Homo sapiens: one gene and its partners. The protein of the gene in region 3 interacts with the protein of the main gene of each other region in a biochemical or structural test. Each region holds a gene or a part of one and is shown on either strand. Other genes may lie near its edges.

Region 1 (5,481 bases), on a different chromosome or scaffold from region 3:
CTTTCTAGCAAGCAGCTTTGTGAGCTCCCTGAAGCCCAAGGAAACCCTTCGGTGGGAGAAATTTCATTTCTGTCTGAGAGGATTAAGGCAGCAGGTGACTCCCCCTCCTCGCCTGCCGTGTCCTGCTATTCTCAGGCAGCTCTAAGGAGAATTCTTATCACAGTTCAAGTGATTTCCAGAAGTTCCAGGGCTTCTGAGAGACCATCAAGGGAACTTTAACAACTTGACAAATGTCCTTGAAGTAAGATGCCTCATCTTTAGGGAAAAATGGGGTTTGGATTTCTGCTTAGGCAAAGTCTCCTGCAGTTCATCCTTCTCTGTCCTCTTCTTGCTTCAGGCTTGGGGACCGTCCCTGCTGTCCCCACTGTGGTGGCAATCAGGACCTAAGGTGAAGCAAACTTGAAGTTCTATCTGACAAGTTTAGGCAGTAAGAGAAGGAGGGAAATCGGAGCAAAGCTCCCTCACTTTATTGTTGAGAAACTGGCATCTGGAAAGAGGAAGGAATTTGCCCAAAGTCAGTCAGCTGGGATAAAAACCTGGGTGTCCTGTCCAGAAAGTGCAGGGTGCTTTCTGCTCTGTAGCAAGGCAGCAGACATCTCTGAGCCAGGCCCACCAACAGGCCCTTATCTGGTGGTTGGATCATGATCCCATTTTGCTTGGACATGCTCTCAGGAAGATAAAAACCATGGAGAAACACTAGGCCATTGACAAATGATCTGAGACAACTTTAGAAAACAATGTAGGATGAATGGAAAGAGAAAGAAAGGAAAGAAAGAAGAAAAAGAAAGAAGGAAAGAAAGAAAGAGAAAGGAAGGAAGGAAAGAAGGAAGGAAAAGAAGGAAGGAAGGAAGGAATATAGTGTTATAAATACTGCACTCAACATTTTCCAAATTCTTGCCATTATTTTTCAAAAGTTTAATAGTTTGCAGAAATAGATACTCAAGCCAAAGTCTGTTTTAGAGAAACTTTCCATGGAAAGTCAGAATTTCTACCACTTCCTTTTCTATCCACATTTCCAGTGCAGAAGAAACTGAGAAACAGAGCTTTTTGAAGAGAGGACAGGGCCATAGCAACAAGGACCTTCTTGGGGGATTAATGGGAGGTCAGTAGAATTAATAACCCTCCTTGGATGAGTGCTACTGTTTTCACATGGCTTCAGATGCTATCAACCTCAAAGAAATGATCTCAACAGAGAAGCTTATTCTCTCCCAACTTCTACGGTAAAATCCAGGAGTATTTTCTCTGGGGATCTGCCCACAGGACAAAGTCCATAAAAGCAAGTCCTGTCTGGACCATGTGGTTATCTGAAGCATTAGCCATCACCAGCACAACAAACGGGGCAGGGCTTTCCAAGGTGGGGCTGGTCAGAAGGGAATCTTTGATAAGAGGCCCACAGGCAGGGAAAGCGAAATAGGGTTGATGAGACCAGGGGAGACCTAAAAAAAAGGCAGCTTTGTGTCTTCTAGCTCCAAATATACCTGCCTTTTAGCTCACACACTGTCCTGGAGTTCTCAGACCTTTAGGGGCCCTAACACAGTTCAGTTCATACAGGGGTTCAAAAGGGACAGTGGCCCATTTGGGAGACCTTTAGGATCAATGGGAATCAATTCCATTGTTTTGCCTCAGAGTAAAGTTTCTGGCTCGGGGACAATTATAAGTTGCAAAAAGGATAGAGGCATATCCCAAGTCTTCCTTCATTCCACAAATAATTACAAACAACCTACTGTGTGCCAGGCACTATTCTTAGCACTGGAAATACACTAGTGAAGAAGCAGATGAGGACCCTGTTTATTGTTTCTCTCCAAGAAATTCTCCAAGAATATTGTTTCTTGGAGAGAAATAATAAATAAACAAGACAATTTCTGAAAGCAATAAGTGCAATCAAGATAATTAAAGGATGCTAAAGTGTGACTTGTGGGGATTGGGAGAGAGATGCACAGACAATATTAAAGAGGAGGCATTCGAGCTTTGTTGTGAACACCGGAAGTAACATGCCGAGCGCCTGGGGGATGGAAACTCCTATAGCACCCCACAGGCTAACAGCAAGCAGGACAAGACAAAAAGGGCAGGTGGGACATGGTAGAGATGGACCCTACCCAGGAAACAGCTCCATCAGCATCTTAGCCTGCCCCACTCTAGCCACACATACCCACGTGTGCTCCTGAGTTCAGTGTGCCCACCTCACTCCCACACCCTCACATAGACTTGGCAAGAGTAAGGAGGGAACTCCATAGAGACATTTTACCTATCTCAGGGGAGCAGCCACAAAGAAGCAAGTCTTGTAAAAGGTCTTTTGCAAAGGAGAGTGAACCCAGCAATGAGAGATCCTTAACAGCTAGTGCCCATTAGGGGGCTAAACCTAAAGCCTGGGTGGTGATGGCTCAAACGCTAATGAGTCAGTGAATCCTTACCGACCCCCTGGCCTTTATAATCTGAGGCAACTTTGGCTGCAGCCCGGGAATGTGCAGGGCACTAGGGAATACAAGGCCTTCTTCCCTGGTTGTCTTGTAATAAAACAGCCATGGGGTTGTCCCTCCAGTCCGAGAGACTGTGATGAGGCCTACATAGCAGCGATGTGGTCAGGTAAAAATCAGGAACCCACTGAAATCTTGGGCAAGCCACCCTGCCTGCTTGTGCCTCGGTTCTCTCATATGTCATATATAGGAGGTGAGGACTCCAGCTCCACCTGCCCCAGGTGGGTGTGGTGATGATGAGGAAAGACAAGAGGCTTGCAAGGACCCTGAAGAGGTCGGAGCATCATACAGATTCCTTTATTAGCCCACATTCTGATGTTCCCTGGTGAGACTTGCCCCAAGCAATTGCTAGTAAATGGGGGTTAATTTCTTCTCCACCTCCCTACTGAACAAAAAAAGAAATGCCAGACTTACTAGGAGAATCGAGTTGCTTTGAGTTTCTTTTGTTTTGTTTTGTTTTGTTTTGTTTTAAGGCTCCCCTTACACACCCTCCTTTAAGCTTTGGGTTTTCTCTCTTATAGTTTGTTGACACATGCTAAAAATGTCTTTGGAGAGAACTTCTGCCTGATAAACACCCAATTCTAGACTGTGGGTGGATTTTCGAGCTGACGGTGGTCAATTCCTTTCATTAAGCAGTGATCTGATTTCTCCACATGGCCATTCTGCCTTCTTGGGGGCAGAGTAGATGGGCAGCAGTTCACCTTTTCAGAGAAAGAGGTCTTCTAGCCACCTGGGCTGCTACTGAATGGTTTTCTCCAGGACGCTCTACCTAATGATTATTTCTATAACATTAAGCATGGTAATAAGTAGCTTCCAATTCAATTCATCCTAAAGCCAAAGAAAATACAGCAACACACACACACACACACACACACACACACACACACACACACACACACCACTTTATGGCAATTCTTAACTGACATTCAATGACTTACTTCTTTTCTTAGAAAATTTCCACCACATTTCTATCCCCAAGCCAACATACAATGTGAAATGAAAGCCAGTGCGTGGAGTGCAGCTGCTAAAAATTTTCAGCACAGGGCTCTTTCTGACTCTGCTCATGAGATGGTATCAGCCACCCAATGACTGGCGTATCTTGGTCCTGTGTCTTTCTTCTTACGCTGTGTTAATGTGTTTACTTTCCATTTGGCAGAGAGACAAGAGAGACACCTCCAACTTCGACAAAGAGTTCACCAGACAGCCTGTGGAACTGACCCCCACTGATAAACTCTTCATCATGAACTTGGACCAAAATGAATTTGCTGGCTTCTCTTATACTAACCCAGAGTTTGTCATTAATGTGTAGGTGAATGCAAACTCCATCGTTGAGCCTGGGGTGTAAGACTTCAAGCCAAGCGTATGTATCAATTCTAGTCTTCCAGGATTCACGGTGCACATGCTGGCATTCAACATGTGGAAAGCTTGTCTTAGAGGGCTTTTCTTTGTATGTGTAGCTTGCTAGTTTGTTTTCTACATTTGAAAATGTTTAGTTTAGAATAAGCGCATTATCCAATTATAGAGGTACAATTTTCCAAACTTCCAGAAACTCATCAAATGAACAGACAATGTCAAAACTACTGTGTCTGATACCAAAATGCTTCAGTATTTGTAATTTTTCAAGTCAGAAGCTGATGTTCCTGGTAAAAGTTTTTACAGTTATTCTATAATATCTTCTTTGAATGCTAAGCATGAGCGATATTTTTAAAAATTGTGAGTAAGCTTTGCAGTTACTGTGAACTATTGTCTCTTGGAGGAAGTTTTTTGTTTAAGAATTGATATGATTAAACTGAATTAATATATGCAAGCTCTTGTTTATATGTCTTTTCTTAAATAGACTATGTTACAGAGGTTACAGACTGAAGATCCAGTTTGTAGCCATTAGATAAGCTTAATTTTACTCACATGGAATTTTACTTAATCAAAACCATTGTGAACATGACAAAATAAGATACTTTATATAAATTCCTGGACTTTTAGATTCCCTTGAAAAAAGAAACAAAAGACTAGCAGCTCTGAGCCTGTATTTCCACATGGAAATAATTCTACAGAACTGAGAAATGCTTCTCCTTTAAAAGCAGTGTATGTTCTCATTTTGCCACAGTCTCCACCACCCCCTATTGTCTTATACCCTCCATCCACTTCCCTGGCTGCTATAGCCACTTGAGGTTGAAACCTCTGTCATTCGTGAGTCACAGGTTTGAGGACCTTAATATTTTCTTGTGCCCCTAATCAGGGTATGTGTGCAGCCACCCACTCAATGTGATTCGTGTTTATTAAGCTATGTATCAAGCACAAGATATGTAAGATTTTATTCCAGCCATGACAAAAGTCAGGAAAGAGGCTGGTGTCAGTGCAGAGAGAATCCTTTGTTTGTTGTCCATGAGGATGTTGCTATTTGTAAAACGACTTACCTTTGACTTATATTCTCCTAATTTAGCTAAGCACCTGCCAAAAAAAGAGGGGGGGGAGTATAAGCCATTTTTTTTTTCAACCGCTTGTCCAGGGAGGCCCAAGAGAAGAGGGAGAAATAAGGGAGACTGCTTCTAAACCCTGCTGGCATGATAAGGACCCGCACTCTCTCAGAGCAGAGTGGCACAGTACTGAGTCACTGGGTGTCAATCTAATACCTTCTTCTCTGAATGAAGTCATGCTTCTATTTTCTTTTCAAAAGATATAGTAATCCAATCTGTAGCACATGCCTTTGTAGCTGCTAAGGCTAGTGGGTAGCAGAAAAGAGCAAATGTGTTCACACTATGTACATTATGACTCTCTACAGAGTGTATTCATCTCTTCCCTTCTTGAAAGAGCCTCAGTAAATGGAGCATTGGAAAGATACAGTGAATCCATTGATCTTACCTAGTGCACTAATCTTTGCAGAATTTTAGAAAGTCTGCCAGTTAAAGTTGGCTGAAGCCCATTTAAACTTCAGGAAGAAACAGTGTTCTAGGCATCACATTTAGAAAACAAAAATACCTGGGATTCTACAGATGTTTGAACATGCATC
Region 2 (4,852 bases), on a different chromosome or scaffold from region 3:
TGAATGGACGTGGAGGCAGCACAGAATCCAGGGCCCTCCCGACCTCAGGGGGCTGCAGTCTGGTTGGGTGGGAGAGATGTTTGTGACCTATTTGCTAGGCCTGGGGTCCCCATCCACCCAGGACACACAGGGGCACCCACTTCTGTTGCATCTTCATGCTCCTGCCCCTAGTGGCCATGTTCTGAGAGGTCTTAACATCTGTCCGTCCCGTGCTGAAGTACAGAGCAGCCATGTGGTGTCTGCCAGGCACTGGGTAGCTTTAGCCCCCGCAATTCCAGGCCCCCAGAGTGTGGGTCTCGTGGCCGCAGAGGCCTTCCAGCCAGCCCTGCTCCCTCCACCCCACAGGTGCTGACGCCCCCCTGGAGCTGGGGGACTCATCCCCGCAGGGCCCAATGAGCCTGGAGTCCTTGGCGCCCCCAGAGAGTACCGACGAGGGGGCCGAAACCGAGAGGTGCCCAGGCTGGGGTGCAGGGGCGGGAGGTGTGGCTTACTGGGCGCTGGTGGGTGGGTGCAGGGTCACCGCTGCCATCTGTGCCTGCCTGTCCCAGGCTCTTGCTCCCCATGCTCCTCTGCTGCTCTCTGGGTCTGGCCATTCCTCTCCCTTCTTCTTTCCTTTTCTCATCTCCCTCCTGCTTCCTCATTGCCCCCCTTTCCTTTTATCCTTCCTTTTTCCTCTGCTCCTTCCTCTCCTTCCTTTTTTCACTAATCCTTCTCCTCCTCCCTTCCTCTCCACCACTCCTTCCATCTCCTTTATTTCCCCCTCCTCTCTCACCTCCCCTCTCCTCTCTCACCTCCCCCATCCTCTCTCACCTCCCCCCTCCTCTCTCACCTACCCCCTCCTCTCACCTCCCCGCTCCTCTCTCACCTCCCCTCTCTTCTCTCACCTCCCTCTTCCTCTCTCACCTCCCCCCTCCTCTCTCACCTTCCCCCTCCTCTCTTTCCTCCCCACTCCTCTCTCACCTGGGTTTTCTTTCCCCACCTTCCATCCCCCTCCGATCTCCCTGCCACTTTTCATTTTTTCAGCCCTTCCTCCCCTTCTCTTTCAAGCCCCCCTGCCCCCTGCCCCCCACCCCCCGCCTCGCTCCTGCCTCCTGGTGCCCGTCCCTCAACCCCCCACCCCTCTGCTCTGTGCCCTGGGGGCCCTGTCCCCCTTACAGCTGGGGGGCAGGCTCTGCCTCCTGCCCGTCCTTGTGCCGCTGCTTTGGGGACCCTTTGGTGGGTGCGGGGAGGTGGGTCAGGTTCCATCTGGGCCCACCTCTGACCCTGTGCCCCTCTCTCCCCAGAAGGTGGAAGAGGTGGGTGCCTGGGCCCTGGGTGGGGGAAGGGCTAGCCCCTCCCCCATTTCTCCCAGCCCCTCCCCTCTCCCCATGGCCACTCCCTCCCCTTCACTCCCTGTGAGGGGTGGGTGGGGACATCACCCTCCCAGTTGAAGAGCTAAGTATGGAAATCCTCCCCACCCCATAACACCCCCTCTGTTGCCATCCCCCTGCCTCAGGGAAGGGAGGGGGTCAGTCCTATGCTCCATCCTGGGTTCCCCATCCCTTCCCCCATCAAATTTCAGTATCCCCCCTCCCCCAAGACCCCCCACTACCCCAGTGCCCCTAAAATCCCACCACTCCTCTGACTCTCTCCTCTCTTCTGTTGCATGTTTGATCCCTGTCCTGGTCACCCTTGCCCCGGTCCTGGTCTCTCCCTGTCTCTGTCCCTGTCCTGGTCTCTCCCCGTCTCTGTCCCTGTCCTCGTCTCTCCCCAATTTCTGTCCCTGCCCTGGCCTCTCCCCACCTCTGTCCCTGCCCTGGTCTCTCCCCGTCTCTGTCCCTGTCCTGGTTTCTCTTCGTCTCTGTTCTTGTCTTGGTCTCTCCTTGTCTCTGTCCCCGGCATCTGCCTGACTCTGTCCTTGGCCTCGGGGTCCAGGCTATCAGGGCGTCTGGGGCGCTCAGAGAGCCTGCGGGTGAGTGACCGCCGCCGGCCTTCCCGGGGCAGCCTCGGGGCTAAGGGCCGGGGTGGGGGCCGCTCCCGGAGCGACGTGGACATGGACCCCAGTTCCGCCACGGCAGTGCTTGGCCCTGCCCGACGAGCCACGTATGTCAACCCTCTCCCTTCCCCCATCCACTAAGGCAGCCTGGAGAATCAGGGAGGGATTGTTGTCAGAGTCACAGAGGAATGGGCGTTGGAGACCGAGGTCATTGAGGCCAACTGTGGTCACAGACCTTGGAGGAGGAGGGGGTAGAATGCTTCTAGAGATCTGGGAACTCTAGTGTGGTCCGATCTAGAGACCTGGTCTGCTGCACGGGCCACCCTGCGGGCATCGAATGCCAAGGCCACTGACCGGGGTTGAACGCTCTAAGAGGCTGAAGGCTGCTTCTTGGGATGGCCCAAGCTGGGGCCCTAACAAGGCCTCTGTCCACAGCCCCGAGCCTGGAGATGAGGGGGAGCCGGGGCGGTCGGGACTGGAGCTTGAACCAGAAGAGCCTCCCGGCTGGCGGGAACTCGTCCCCCCAGACACCCTGCACAGCCTGCCCAAGAGCCAGGTGAAGCGGCAGGAGGTCATCAGCGGTGAGTACTGCCCCCATCACCCCACTGTGGCCAAGGACACAGTCCAGCTCTGGCAAAGGCAAAGACAGGCGCAGAGAGATGTTCATCTTGGTGTCATTTACCATCGGGAGAACTTGAAGGCAGCTTCAAATTCCCTCTTGTTCCAAGTTCAGATTGTTTCAACACAGAGCATTTTGATGGAATGTGAATGCCACTGTGGAAGGGACATTTCCAAACATTTCTAGTAGTGCAATACAGTGCTGATGTTGAGAACACTGCATTTCTGGTGCAAGCTTTTATTTCCTTGCTTGTGAAATGTGGGCATTAATAGTTCCTACCTCAGATATTGTCATGAAGATGAGATGATTTGTGTGAAATGTTTAGCATAGTGCTGGGCACAGAGGAAGAGCATTTTATTTTATTTATTTTTTTAAATTTTTATTTGAGGCAGAGTCTCAGTTGGTCTCTCAGGCTGGAGTGCAGTGGCACAATCACGGCTCACTGCAGCCTTACCCTCCCAGGCTCAACTGATCCTCCCACCTCAGCCTCCCGAGTAGCTGAACAGGCATGTACCACCATGCCTGGCTAATTTTTGTATTCTTTGTAGAGATGGGGTTTCGCCATGTTGGCCAGGCTGGTCTCGAACCCTTGGGCTCAAGTGATCCTCCTACCTCAGCCTCCCAAAGTCTTGGGATTACAAGTGTGAGCCACCAGGCCCAGTCAAGGAAGAGCATTTTAATGAGATTGTTGTTACTAGTTTGATCTTAATTGCTTAGGGGAGAAAAGATCCCCACAGGGGAAAGTTTGGGAGAATGATCAGTATATTAGCAGTGCTTGCTTCTGCGTGGAGAGATGATGAGTGTATCATTTTTGTCTTTTTCCTTTTTTCCTTTGCTAATTGTGTGGTGGCTAGGGAGGCTGGTGGCAAAAAGAGAAAGCTTTTTTTTTTTTTTTTTTTTTAAGACAGAGTTTTGCTCTTGTTGCCCAGGCTGGAGTGCAATGGCACAATCTCGGCTCACCACAACCTACGCCTCCCAGGTTCAAGTGATTCTCCTGCCTCAGCCTCCTGAGTAGCTGGGATTACAGGCATGTGCCACCACGCCCGGCTAATTTTGTATTTTTAGTAGAGACGGGGTTTCTCCATGTTGGTCAGGCTGGTCTCGAACGCCCGCCTCAGCCTCCCAAAGTGCTGGGATTACAGGCGTGAGCCACTGTGCCTAGCCCAAGAGAAAGGTTTGGGACTTGACTGAAAGCTTATTTACAGATTACTTCATAGTGAAAAAGATACTTATTCAAAAATTTTAGGGGAGTAGTTGAGTACTTTTTGGGTCACAGATCCTTCTAAGGACATGATAAAAAAAAAAAAAAACATGAGCCATGTGCTACCCATTAGGACTTTCTGGAAGATGGAAATGTGCTTTATTTGTACTGCTCACCATGGGGACCATCGGCCACCTATGGCTGGTGAGCACTTGAAATGCACTAGGCCAGGCACAGTGGCTCATGCCTGTGATCCCAGCACTTTGGGAAGCCGAGGTGGGCAGATCACTTGAGGTCAGGAGTTCGAGACTAGCCTGGCCAACATGGTGAAACCCCATCTCTACTAAACATACAAAAATTAGCCAAGCATAGTGGCGCATGCCTGTAATCCCAGATACTCGAGAGAGTAAGCCAGGAGAATTGCTTGAACCCAGGAAGCAGGAGATGGAGGTTGCAATGAACCCAGATCACTCCACCACACTTCAATCTAGGTGACAGAGCAAGACTGTGTCTCAAAAAAAAAGCACTAAATACAACTGAGCACTGACTTAAAATTTCATTGCAATTAACGAAAATGTAAAGAGTTGTACACGGCTGGTGACTATCACGTTGGACAGGATAGCAATTTCTTTCCCCAGAAAGAATATGCATAATGTACAAAATCGTGCTTTTAGTCTCAGGGGACTTCTAGGGCCCCTGAAACTCACACATATGCCCTCCGGGGATGTGGGGGTCCCTGGATCTGAGGCTGTCAACCACTGTATAATGTGGCTTGATGGTTAGACACTAAACACAGCTGCAAGCTTGCTGGCAGGTGGGATGACTAGCTTGTCCCCATTTGCTCAGGATATTCACAGTTTTATCACTGAAAGCCCAGGCAGGCAAATGAGGACCATTGGTCACTCTGGCCAGCTGCCACAGCGAAAAGGGAAAGGCAGTGGGTTGAGGAATCCTCACTGGTTTTTTTTTTTTTTTTTTTTTTTTGAGACGATCTCGCTCTGTCGCCTAGGCTAGAGTGCAGTGGCGTGATCTCCGCTCACTGCAACCTCCACCTCCC
Region 3 (4,852 bases):
TTTTAAACAAAGGTATGAGGGTGCTGGTTGATGCTCGAGAGAAGCTTCATATTCCCTGGGGAGACAACTCAAACCAACAACATGGAGATAAGATGATGTCGTTTGATACCCGGGCCCCCATGGCAGCCCAAGGAATGGTGGAAACAAGGGTTTTCTTACAATATCTTCCTGCTATAAGAGCATTATGGGCAGACAGCGGCATACAGAATGCCTATGACCGGCGTCGAGAATTTCAACTGGTAAGAGATTTGCTCTTTTAAAACGTGTGGTTTTATTTTAATGATGTTTAGTAATACAGGTTGCACATCCCTAATGCGAAAATTCGAAATGTTCCCAAATCTAAAAGTATTTGAGATGGAGGAACAGACTGAAAGGCTAAGGCACAGACCTAATGTGTCCTAGTCTCTAATGACTACGTGTAAAAATAGTGTATAAAATTACCTTTAGGCTACATATCTTAAGGTATATATGAAACATAAATGAATTTCTAGTTTAGACTTGAGTCCCATTCCCAGCATATCTCATATGTATGCAGATATTTCAAAAATCTGAAAAAATTCAAAATCCAAAACACTTCTGGTCCCAGGCATTCGGATAAGGGACACTCAACCTGTATCTGATTTTAGCACACTTTTTTCACTGACTTCCATAATTTAATGTATCTATCCAAAATTATAGCCTCAGAAATTTGTTTTTTTGTTTTTGGGGGGTTTGTTTTGAGACGGAGTCTCTGTTGCCCAGGCTGGAGTGCAGTGGTGTGATCTTGGCCCACTGCAACCTCTGCCCCCAGGGTTCAAGCAACTCTCCTGCCTCAGCCTCCTGTGTAGCTGGGTCTATAGGCGCGTGCCACCACACCTAGCTAATTTTTGTCTTTTTAGTAGAGGCAGTTTCGCCATGTTGGCCAGGCTGATCTTGAACTCCTGACCTCAGGTAATGTGCCCACTTTGACCTCCCAAATTGCTGGCATTGTGCCAGGCATTTTTCCCCTTTTTTCTTTAACGAGACTACCCATAAAATGCTTTGTAGCTGTTACACAGCATTGAAGACAGGTTTGGAATAAAAGTATCCAATCCAGGTTAAAGATACAGAATACAGTTGAAACAAATTTTTAATCAAGTGTTTTGTAATTTAACTGTGAATGCTGTGATTGGGTTTTATTTGCCAAAGATCAGAAAGATTCCAGCAGTGATAGAAATCTAGACTGTGTGCAATTTGGAGGTAGTTCAGATCTGAAGTGTTTTACTCTAATATGATTAAAATGAAGTGACAGTTAAAAGTAAAACTGCTGGCTGGGCACGGTGGCTCATGCCTGTAATCCCAGCACTTTGGGAGTCTGAGGCGGGTGGATCACCTGATGTCAGAAGTTTGAAACCAGCCTGGCCAACACGGTGAAACACCGTCTCTTCTAAAAATACAAAAATTAGCCAGGTGTGGTGGCAGGCACCTGTAATCCCAGCTACTCAGGAGGCTGAGGCAGGAGACTCGCTTGAACTCTGGAAGCGGAGGCTGCGGTAAGCCGAGTTCGTGCCACTGCACTCCAGCCTGGGCAACAAGAGCAGAACTCCATCTCCAAAAAAAAAATAAATAAGCTGCTTAGGAAGTTGTTTGATGATGTCACCAACATTAATCCACATTAATGGGTGTGGCTGCAAAGCGATGTACAACCAGCAGTCCTTGCTGTTATTATTTATACTTAGAAGCAGTCTTGCCTTTTAAAAGTTCCAGGAAAGTGTTCACGATAGCTTTTTATAAAACTGACACCTTAATTTTGACTATATCTGAATTATGGCTTTTATATCTGTCATTCAACTAGCATTTGATTATTTACCGTCTTGTATAGTTCTCTTCTATCATGTTTGTATCTTGTCTTTTCAAGTAATGTGTTTATTTCTGAAAGGCAGGGACTGTCTCACATTATTGTTAAAATTACGTAGCTGCCAGTATTGCATGTTGAAAATGATGAATTTAACTTGACAAATGACCTCCATCCAATTCCCAGATTTCTGGTTAGTTTTGTCCCTTGATCAATGTTTATTACTTTATTTTTGGTAGATTTGCTTGCATGAGTTCTTCCATATACCCCTTTCCATCGCCCATCACTCTACCTCCTGTTTTTTGTTTTTTTGCATTTTTTTGAGAGTTTTGTTCTTGTTGCCCAGGCTGGAGTGCAGTGGCGCGATCTTGGCTCACCTCCGCCTCCTGGGTTCAGGCGATTCTCCTGCCTCAGCCTCCCAAGTAGCTGAGATTACAGGCATGCGCCACCACACCTGGCTAATTTTGTATTTTTAGTAGAGACAGTGTTTCTCCATGTTGGTCAAGCTGGTCTCTAACTCCTGACCTCAGGTGATCTGCCTGCCTTGCCCTCCCAAAGTGCTGGGATTACAGGCATGAGCCACTGTGCCTGGCCATCTACCTCCTGTTTTTAAGTGCTGCTTATTCTCCTTTCTTCTTAGTTCATTTTCTCAACAAACCACACACTTTCAACTCAATTTTGTCAGGCTCTATTCATCCTTCCAGGTCAGAGAAGAAACATTCATCTGTAATAAGCATACAGTGCATATGGATTAAATGAATAAATAAAGAACTGCATACCTGAAAGTTCTCTGTGGGGAAGTTCCGTATTTGCCCTAAGTCCATTTAATTAAAGTTGTGTTTCATGGACAGTTTTTTAATTTGGAAGCTGACGTCTAACTGTCTCACATCAGGACTGTCATGTCCTCATTGTTGAGAAAGCATCCCTAAGTATATCTTTGTGATTAAGAACGAATAGGTAAAACCACTCAGGATGAGGACCTGCTTGTTGTTGACTTGAGCCAGTTGATCCTTAAGGAGCAAAGAAGTCCTCAAAGATGAGGAGAGATAAGTTCCAGAAATACTTTTTTCCATGATGAAAAGTAGAGACAAGAAAAGAGGAACAGAGCAAGACCTAATTTTAAACTTCTGGAGGACAGAGATTCTTTTTTCCTGAGTCTACGCTCAGCATTGTTTTTTGTTTTTTTGTTTTTGTTTTTTAAGAGAAGGTCTCACTGTTGCCCAGGCTGGAGTGCCCTGTTGTGATCATAGCTCACTGTAGACTCAACTCCTGGGCTCAAGTGATTCTCCAGCTTCAGTCTCTCAAGTAGCTAGGACTACAGGTGTGTGCCGTCACACCCAGCTAATTTAAAAAAAAATTTTTGTAGAGACGGAGTCTTGCTATGTTGCCAGTGCTGGTCTTGGACTCCTGACCTCAAGCAGTCCTCCTGCCTTGGCTTCCCAAAATGTTGGGATTATAGGCATGAACCACTGTGCGTGGCTTCAGCATTGTTAATAGCACCTGACACATAGAGATGCTCCATTATTATGTTGACTTAATGACTCTTAAACTCTTGGATGTGCTGTGGTGCTTGGCATAGTGTCAGGCACTGAGAAGGCACTTGGCTTACTTAAAATTTTCCTCAAAGTCATCATCAATTCCATCTACTCATCTACATGCAGCAGCTCCCCAAGTTCTGATTTTTCTACCTCTGTAACGTCTCTTGCATTCATTCCCTCCTTTCCTCTATTTTGTGTTCTGCTACCTCTTGCTTGGACTCCAAGGCAGTCTTGTTCAAACACAGCATTGGTTTGCTCAGAAAGCTTTGGTGGCTCACCATTGTCTTCAGAACAGAGCTCAGCTTTTTTGTGGGAGTAAAGACTCTAGCTAGCTTACCTGTGATTCCAGCAATATATTTCATTAGGCCACTGGACATACTCTGTAATCTCTTGATTCCCACATACCCTAATTTTTTGCTTCTATAGCTCTCATCATGCGTAGTCCCTCTGCCAGAATTATTCTTTACCCTATCTGTTACTAGGTCTTACCCTTCACTTAATGTAGTGATAATCACACTAAATGTGGCCCATGGACCCCATGGACTGGAATGCTTGTTAAAACAAACAAGCAGATGCTCAGACTTTATACCTGAGGATCTGATTCTGGATTCTGGGATGGGACCCAGTGATCTGTGTTTTCAGCAAATAGCCATAGGTGGTTTGGATGAATTTGCTCCATGCCCCCTCCCTTTCCCCAGGAACAGTGCCTTAGGGGCTGTGTCTCTTTATTTGAAGCATCTCCAGTCTTCTTGGCTAGAATGGAGATCTCCGTGTCCTTTGCTTTCCCTAGCATGCTTACTCCTGTCACTCCTCACAGTACCCATTATGTGTGTTAGAGTCACAGCTTTCATGTGTGGCTGTCAGTCATGTAGAAGTCCTTTGGTATGCCTAGTTTGTCTTTTTCTCTCCTACTAGCATAGTGCCTGACACTTTTATTTCCTCGTTTTTCAGACATTCTTAATTACAAAGATGTTCTAAAAAAATAAAATACCTGTAATCCCAGCTCTTTGGGAGGCTGAGGCAGGCAGATCACTTGAGGTCAGGAGTTGGAAACCAGCCTGGCTGACATGGTGAAACCCCATCTCTACCAAAAACCAAAACCAAAACCAAAAATTAGCCAGGCATGGTGACATGTACCTGTAGTCCTGGCTACTCAGGAGACTGAGGCACGAGAATCGCTTGAACTCAGGAGGTGGAGGTTGCAGTGAGTGGAGATCATGCCACTGCACTCCAGCTTGAACGTCAGAGTGAGACCCTGTCTCAAAAAAATAAAAATTAAAAAATATGTAATATAATTTAATTCTACATTAAGTTCCTTCTGGGAAATATGGATTATTTCTATAATAGTTTCCTAATTTTCTAGGAAGTGGACAGTTCTTGTGTAATTATAATTTTTATTTGGGGGGGTTGAAATGTGTTTTGTTATGTTTAGCAGCATATTTTTGAATTTTGGATAGGAAAGGTAAACATCAGAAGAAATAGAGGTTAGCAGATAAAATAA
Region 4 (4,547 bases), on a different chromosome or scaffold from region 3:
GTGATGGCAAGCACGGTCGTGACCATGGTGCGGGGTGAAGGCACGGTGACCGCCGAGCACACCTGTCCTTATTTATTTGTGAGTTCAGCTGTGGAACCCTGGAAGGAGGGGAGGTCTTGGGGCTCCTGTGCTAGTGACGGGCACACTTCAGAGAGTTCACCCACAGGTGCACACGCACGTGCACACTGTGAGTGCTGCAGAGGACATGGATTGGGTGGGCTGGTGCTGGGTGCTCAGGAAGGCCTCTCCAGGGAGGCGAGGTTTGAGCTGACACTGCGGGAAGCAGAGGCATCTGCCGTGCACAGAGCCTGGCGAGCATATTCCAGGCTTGAGGAGGGGTCCTAAGGCAGGGAGAAGTTGGCGAGTGGGCAGGGCTGTGCTTTGAGGGCTGACATTGGACATGGGGTTCACTGGGCCCAAATCCTATGGCGCTTTACAGGCCCCAGTGAGGAACTTTGTTCCTAGGGCAGTGCGGAGCCACCAAAGGCTTTGAGTGGGAGAGGGGCCTGATCTGAATAGTGACATTGAAAGCTCTATCTGGCTTCGGGGCCACAGGGGATTGAATGGGGTCTGGAGGGCAGATCAGCAGAGAGGGTGGGGGTGGCTCAGAATCACAGTCACCTGTCCTGAATGTCCATGTCCATGCTGGATGTCCCCTGCCCAACACCCACCCAGGCTGGGCTGTGGGGTCAGCACCTGGCCGGGCCAGGAGGTGGCCTGTGAGTGACCACCCCCGGGGAGGTGGACGAGTCCCTAATGTTTCCCTCGCTCCCCACCAGGGCCCATGTGTGACCTGCTCTGGTCAGATCCACAGCCACAGGTGAGTCTAGGGTGGGGTGCAGGGCCGGCGGGTGTGGGCTGTGGCAGCAGGTGGAGGCAGACAGTCACCCTGAACCCCTGTCTCTCCCTTCTGCCCACCCTCAGAACGGGCGCTCGATCAGCAAGCGGGGCGTGAGCTGTCAGTTTGGGCCTGACGTCACCAAGGCCTTCTTGGAAGAGAACAACCTGGACTATATCATCCGCAGCCACGAAGTCAAGGCCGAGGGCTACGAGGTGGCTCACGGAGGCCGCTGTGTCACCGTCTTCTCTGCCCCCAACTACTGGTATGTCTTTGCCTTTCCAGCCCAGGGCCTCTACCAAGCCACGGGTTTTTGTCTTGGTTTTTGTTTTGCCTTTTTATGATGGAACATTTCAAAGACAGGCAAGAGCAGATAAAAGAACATGACGAACACCCCCGTATGTGTCACCCACCCATGCAGCACCAGTGGGGCCAGCCTGTGAGTGCTGACCAGCTGCCCTGTGTTACAGCAAGCCCCTGGCACTTCACCTTTCTCCCACTGATTGCCCAGCACTTTTCAGAAGGAAAGGGATCTTTTTCTTAACCACAATATCGTGTTTACACTTTTGAGTGCTGGCTGGGCATGGTGGCTCACGCCTATAATCCCAGCACTTTGGGAGGCCGAGGTGGGCGGATCACCTGAGGTCAGGAGTTTGAGACCAGCCTGGCCAACATGGTGAAACCCCATCTCTACTAAAAATACAAAAATTAGCAGGGCGTGGTGGCACACACCCGTAATCCCAGCTACTCAGGAGGCTGAGTCAGGAGAATTGTTCGAACCCGGGAGGTAGAGGTTGCAGTGAGCTGAGATTGCACCACTGCACTCCAGCCTGGGGAAGAGTAAGACTCCATCTCAAAACACACGCACACGGGCAAGAGTAAGACTCCATCTCAAAACACACACACACACACACACACACACACACACACACACACACACACACACACACACACACACACACACACACACACACACACACACACACACACACACAGTGTTGATCCCTTGCCCCCACCCGAATCCTGCCAAGTTCTCTTTCTCCTGGTCTCTCCTAAGTGTCTTTTCCAGCTGACTTCTTCCAGACAGGACCTAAACAAGGACCACATTTTCAGTCTCTTTGCCTGTGAGTTCCCTGTCTCTCCCCACCCGCATCATTTATTTGTTGAAGAATAGGTTGCTGCCTGCTGTACGAGTCACCTGTGTCCTGGACTAGGCTGACTGCATCCCCGTGGTGCCGTGTGACATGTTCCTCTGTTCCCTGCATCTCTGGGTGGGCAAAGCTAGAAGCGTGGTCAGATTCCTAGTGGGGTCTGGCGAGCATCCACCTCCATGAGCTATGCCCTGCCCCTTCCTGCTCCTGCTTCCTGCACTCCCACCCTCTTTTCCCCATCCCCATCCTCCTGCCCCTCCCATTCTTTCCCCTGGATTCGTCTTTCCCATCTCTGTCTCTCTGTCCATCTGTGTCTGTTGTGGCTCTGTCCCTCCCTCTCCCTCTGTCCCTTCTTGCCCAGCCATTCCTTCTCTTAACCCACCAGCCCCACCCAGCCCTGACCACACTGTCCACTCTGCTCCTGTCCCTGCAGCGACCAGATGGGGAACAAAGCCTCCTACATCCACCTCCAGGGCTCTGACCTACGGCCTCAGTTCCACCAGTTCACAGCAGTGGTGAGTCACCCCTCAGGGCCCCTGCCCCTTCCATCCCGGCCTGGGGACAAGGAGGCTGAGACCCTGGTAAGGGGCAGGGGTAGGTTCTGCCGGTGGGTGCTCAGGGGCTCTGTTCTGACTTCTGTCCATCCCACCTGCCCTGGTCCCACAGCCTCATCCCAACGTCAAGCCCATGGCCTATGCCAACACGCTGCTGCAGCTAGGAATGATGTGAGGTGACGGGCGGGGCGGCCTGCATCCCAGGGCCCCTCCAATCCCACCGGACCCAGGCCCTGGGCTAGGGGCAGAGCAGGCCCCGCCCCAGGGCAATGTTGGACCCCCTTTTACTTTGTAAAGTTTGTATTTATTCCCCTTTAGGTTTGCAGAGGGGGTAGGGGCAGAGTCAGGGGCTGGCCAGAGGGTCTGCTCCCTGGACAGAGAGGAAGGAGGTGGAGCAGCTGGGGCTGGGGGCACAGCCTGGGCATTCTGTGGGGAGGCCGTCCTCGGGGTGGGGTGGGGCCGAGTGGCTGCCCTGCCCCCCTCATTTGCATGGCTCCTCCCCCACTCAAGCAATAGGGCCCCGCCATAGGAAGACCCCCAGAGAGAGGGTCAGCAGGGGGGCCCCGCCTGCGCCTCCCCTCCTATAGCCCCATGGTGGGGCTAGGCTGGGGCTCACCCCCCTCCCCAGCTATTTTATGTCTGTAATTAAATATGTTAAAATAAAGTCATTATCGGAAGTCAGCTTGTCTCTGGATGGTGGAGCCGAAGGAGCTGCCCGGGTTGGGTTACGCCTGCTCAGGAGATCCGGAGGGTGGGGAGGCCGCAAAGTCCCGCTGGCCGGGCCCACCCAGCTCTGGGCTGACCGCCCAAGTGGCCTCTGCCTCTGCCCAGCACCGTGGGCTCCTGGGGAGAGTTCTGCCCCCTGGGTGGGGCGATGAGGCCAGCACTGAGTGGAGCGGAGCGGAAGCTGAGGCATAGCCTCATCCTTTGCTGGCTCCAGCAACAAGCATGACAGTGCCGCTCCCTGCTCCCTGCTCAGGGTAGGCCCAGCAGTGGTTCTTGACATCACACGATGAGGCGCGCATCTCCCGTCATCCAGGGAGACCAGAGGACCCTTGTCTCACTCCCAGTTGGCTCTTAGTCACAGGTAACGTTGGATTCCATTCAGGCTGCCCTGCCAGGCCTTGACCCTCCAGAGAGATTGTGTTTTCAAGTTTGAGCTCCTCTGGACTCAGCTTTCTCCAGTGGTATGTGGCACTGGGGGATGGTCTACAGCAAATGACTCCTGCAGGGCCGAGTCCGGGAGTGTTTGGCCCTTTGGAGACCTCCCAGGCAGACATGAGGCGTCCGCGGTCCTGATTGCGCGTAGGCGCTGGGGAGGTGTTCTCTAAGGCCCATCAGCCTTACAGTAAGTGCACCGCCTTCTGGGGTCAGGTGCGCCACGGTCCAGAAGCCAAGTACACATGGCTTCAGGAAAACAGGCACGAGGCCCAGGTTGCCAGTGCCATTCATTTCTCCTGGGAAAGACAAAAACAGCCACCATGACTGTCGGGAGGGTGCTTCAGACCTGATGGGAGTCAGCCAGGCGGGCAGCTGTGAGGCTCTCAGACTCACTGGGTGTCGGGGTTCCCTGCCGCTGCAGTTCAGGAGGTCTCCCAGGACCCGGTATGGTCATTATCCTCACAGTGAGGGCCTATTATAGCAAGAATATGGGGATGAGAATGAGAGGAGGGAAGAGGCAGGCGCAAGCGTCCCACTGCCCTCTCCCGTGGAGCTGTGTGGACAGCGCTTATTTTCCCCGCATGGATGCGACAGCGTGCTGGAGTGTGGCCACCTAGGGAAGCTCACCCGGGCCTCTGCATCCAAGGTTTTCTTCAGGGGTTGGTCATGGGGACTGCTCACCCCGCGTGGCTGACCGTAGCCTCCAGAGAGACCCACGGCCCCCACCCTAAATCACATCCTTAGCATAGACTGTCCACTGTGGCCCAGGGCCCCAGATAAAGAGACGCTCCTATGAGGTAGGACACACCGAGGGCTCTCCGGTGACCTCCCAGGAGCCAGCCT

What was found. The genes of interacting proteins can lie anywhere in the genome.
Region 1: of the proteins of GNA13 (region 3) and PRKCB, one has a biochemical effect on the other in vitro, tested with the Homo sapiens proteins (one study listed by BioGRID).
Region 2: the proteins of GNA13 (region 3) and ARHGEF1 form a complex in vitro, tested with the Homo sapiens proteins (one study listed by BioGRID).
Region 4: the proteins of GNA13 (region 3) and PPP5C form a complex in vitro, tested with the Homo sapiens proteins (one study listed by BioGRID).

The regions. Positions count from the first base shown.
Region 1 is NC_000016.10:24,216,331-24,221,811, forward strand, and holds the end of PRKCB (protein kinase C beta type), read left to right. Parts: 3' UTR 1-3,630; coding exon of another isoform or gene 3,631-3,783; 3' UTR 3,784-4,281; downstream 4,282-5,481. UniProt on the Homo sapiens protein: Calcium-activated, phospholipid- and diacylglycerol (DAG)-dependent serine/threonine-protein kinase involved in various cellular processes such as regulation of the B-cell receptor (BCR) signalosome, oxidative stress-induced apoptosis, androgen receptor-dependent transcription regulation, insulin signaling and endothelial cells proliferation.
Region 2 is NC_000019.10:41,896,032-41,900,883, forward strand, and holds part of ARHGEF1 (rho guanine nucleotide exchange factor 1), read left to right. Parts: intron 1-345; coding exon 346-451; intron 452-1,283; coding exon of another isoform or gene 1,284-1,295; intron 1,296-1,914; coding exon of another isoform or gene 1,915-2,082; intron 2,083-2,410; coding exon 2,411-2,556; intron 2,557-4,852. UniProt on the Homo sapiens protein: Seems to play a role in the regulation of RhoA GTPase by guanine nucleotide-binding alpha-12 (GNA12) and alpha-13 (GNA13) subunits. Acts as a GTPase-activating protein (GAP) for GNA12 and GNA13, and as guanine nucleotide exchange factor (GEF) for RhoA GTPase.
Region 3 is NC_000017.11:65,048,889-65,053,740, reverse strand, and holds part of GNA13 (guanine nucleotide-binding protein subunit alpha-13), read left to right. Parts: intron 1-12; coding exon 13-239; intron 240-4,852. UniProt on the Homo sapiens protein: Guanine nucleotide-binding proteins (G proteins) are involved as modulators or transducers in various transmembrane signaling systems.
Region 4 is NC_000019.10:46,387,629-46,392,175, forward strand, and holds the end of PPP5C (serine/threonine-protein phosphatase 5), read left to right. Parts: intron 1-779; coding exon 780-820; intron 821-924; coding exon 925-1,103; intron 1,104-2,422; coding exon 2,423-2,504; intron 2,505-2,655; coding exon 2,656-2,718; 3' UTR 2,719-3,347; downstream 3,348-4,547. UniProt on the Homo sapiens protein: Serine/threonine-protein phosphatase that dephosphorylates a myriad of proteins involved in different signaling pathways including the kinases CSNK1E, ASK1/MAP3K5, PRKDC and RAF1, the nuclear receptors NR3C1, PPARG, ESR1 and ESR2, SMAD proteins and TAU/MAPT.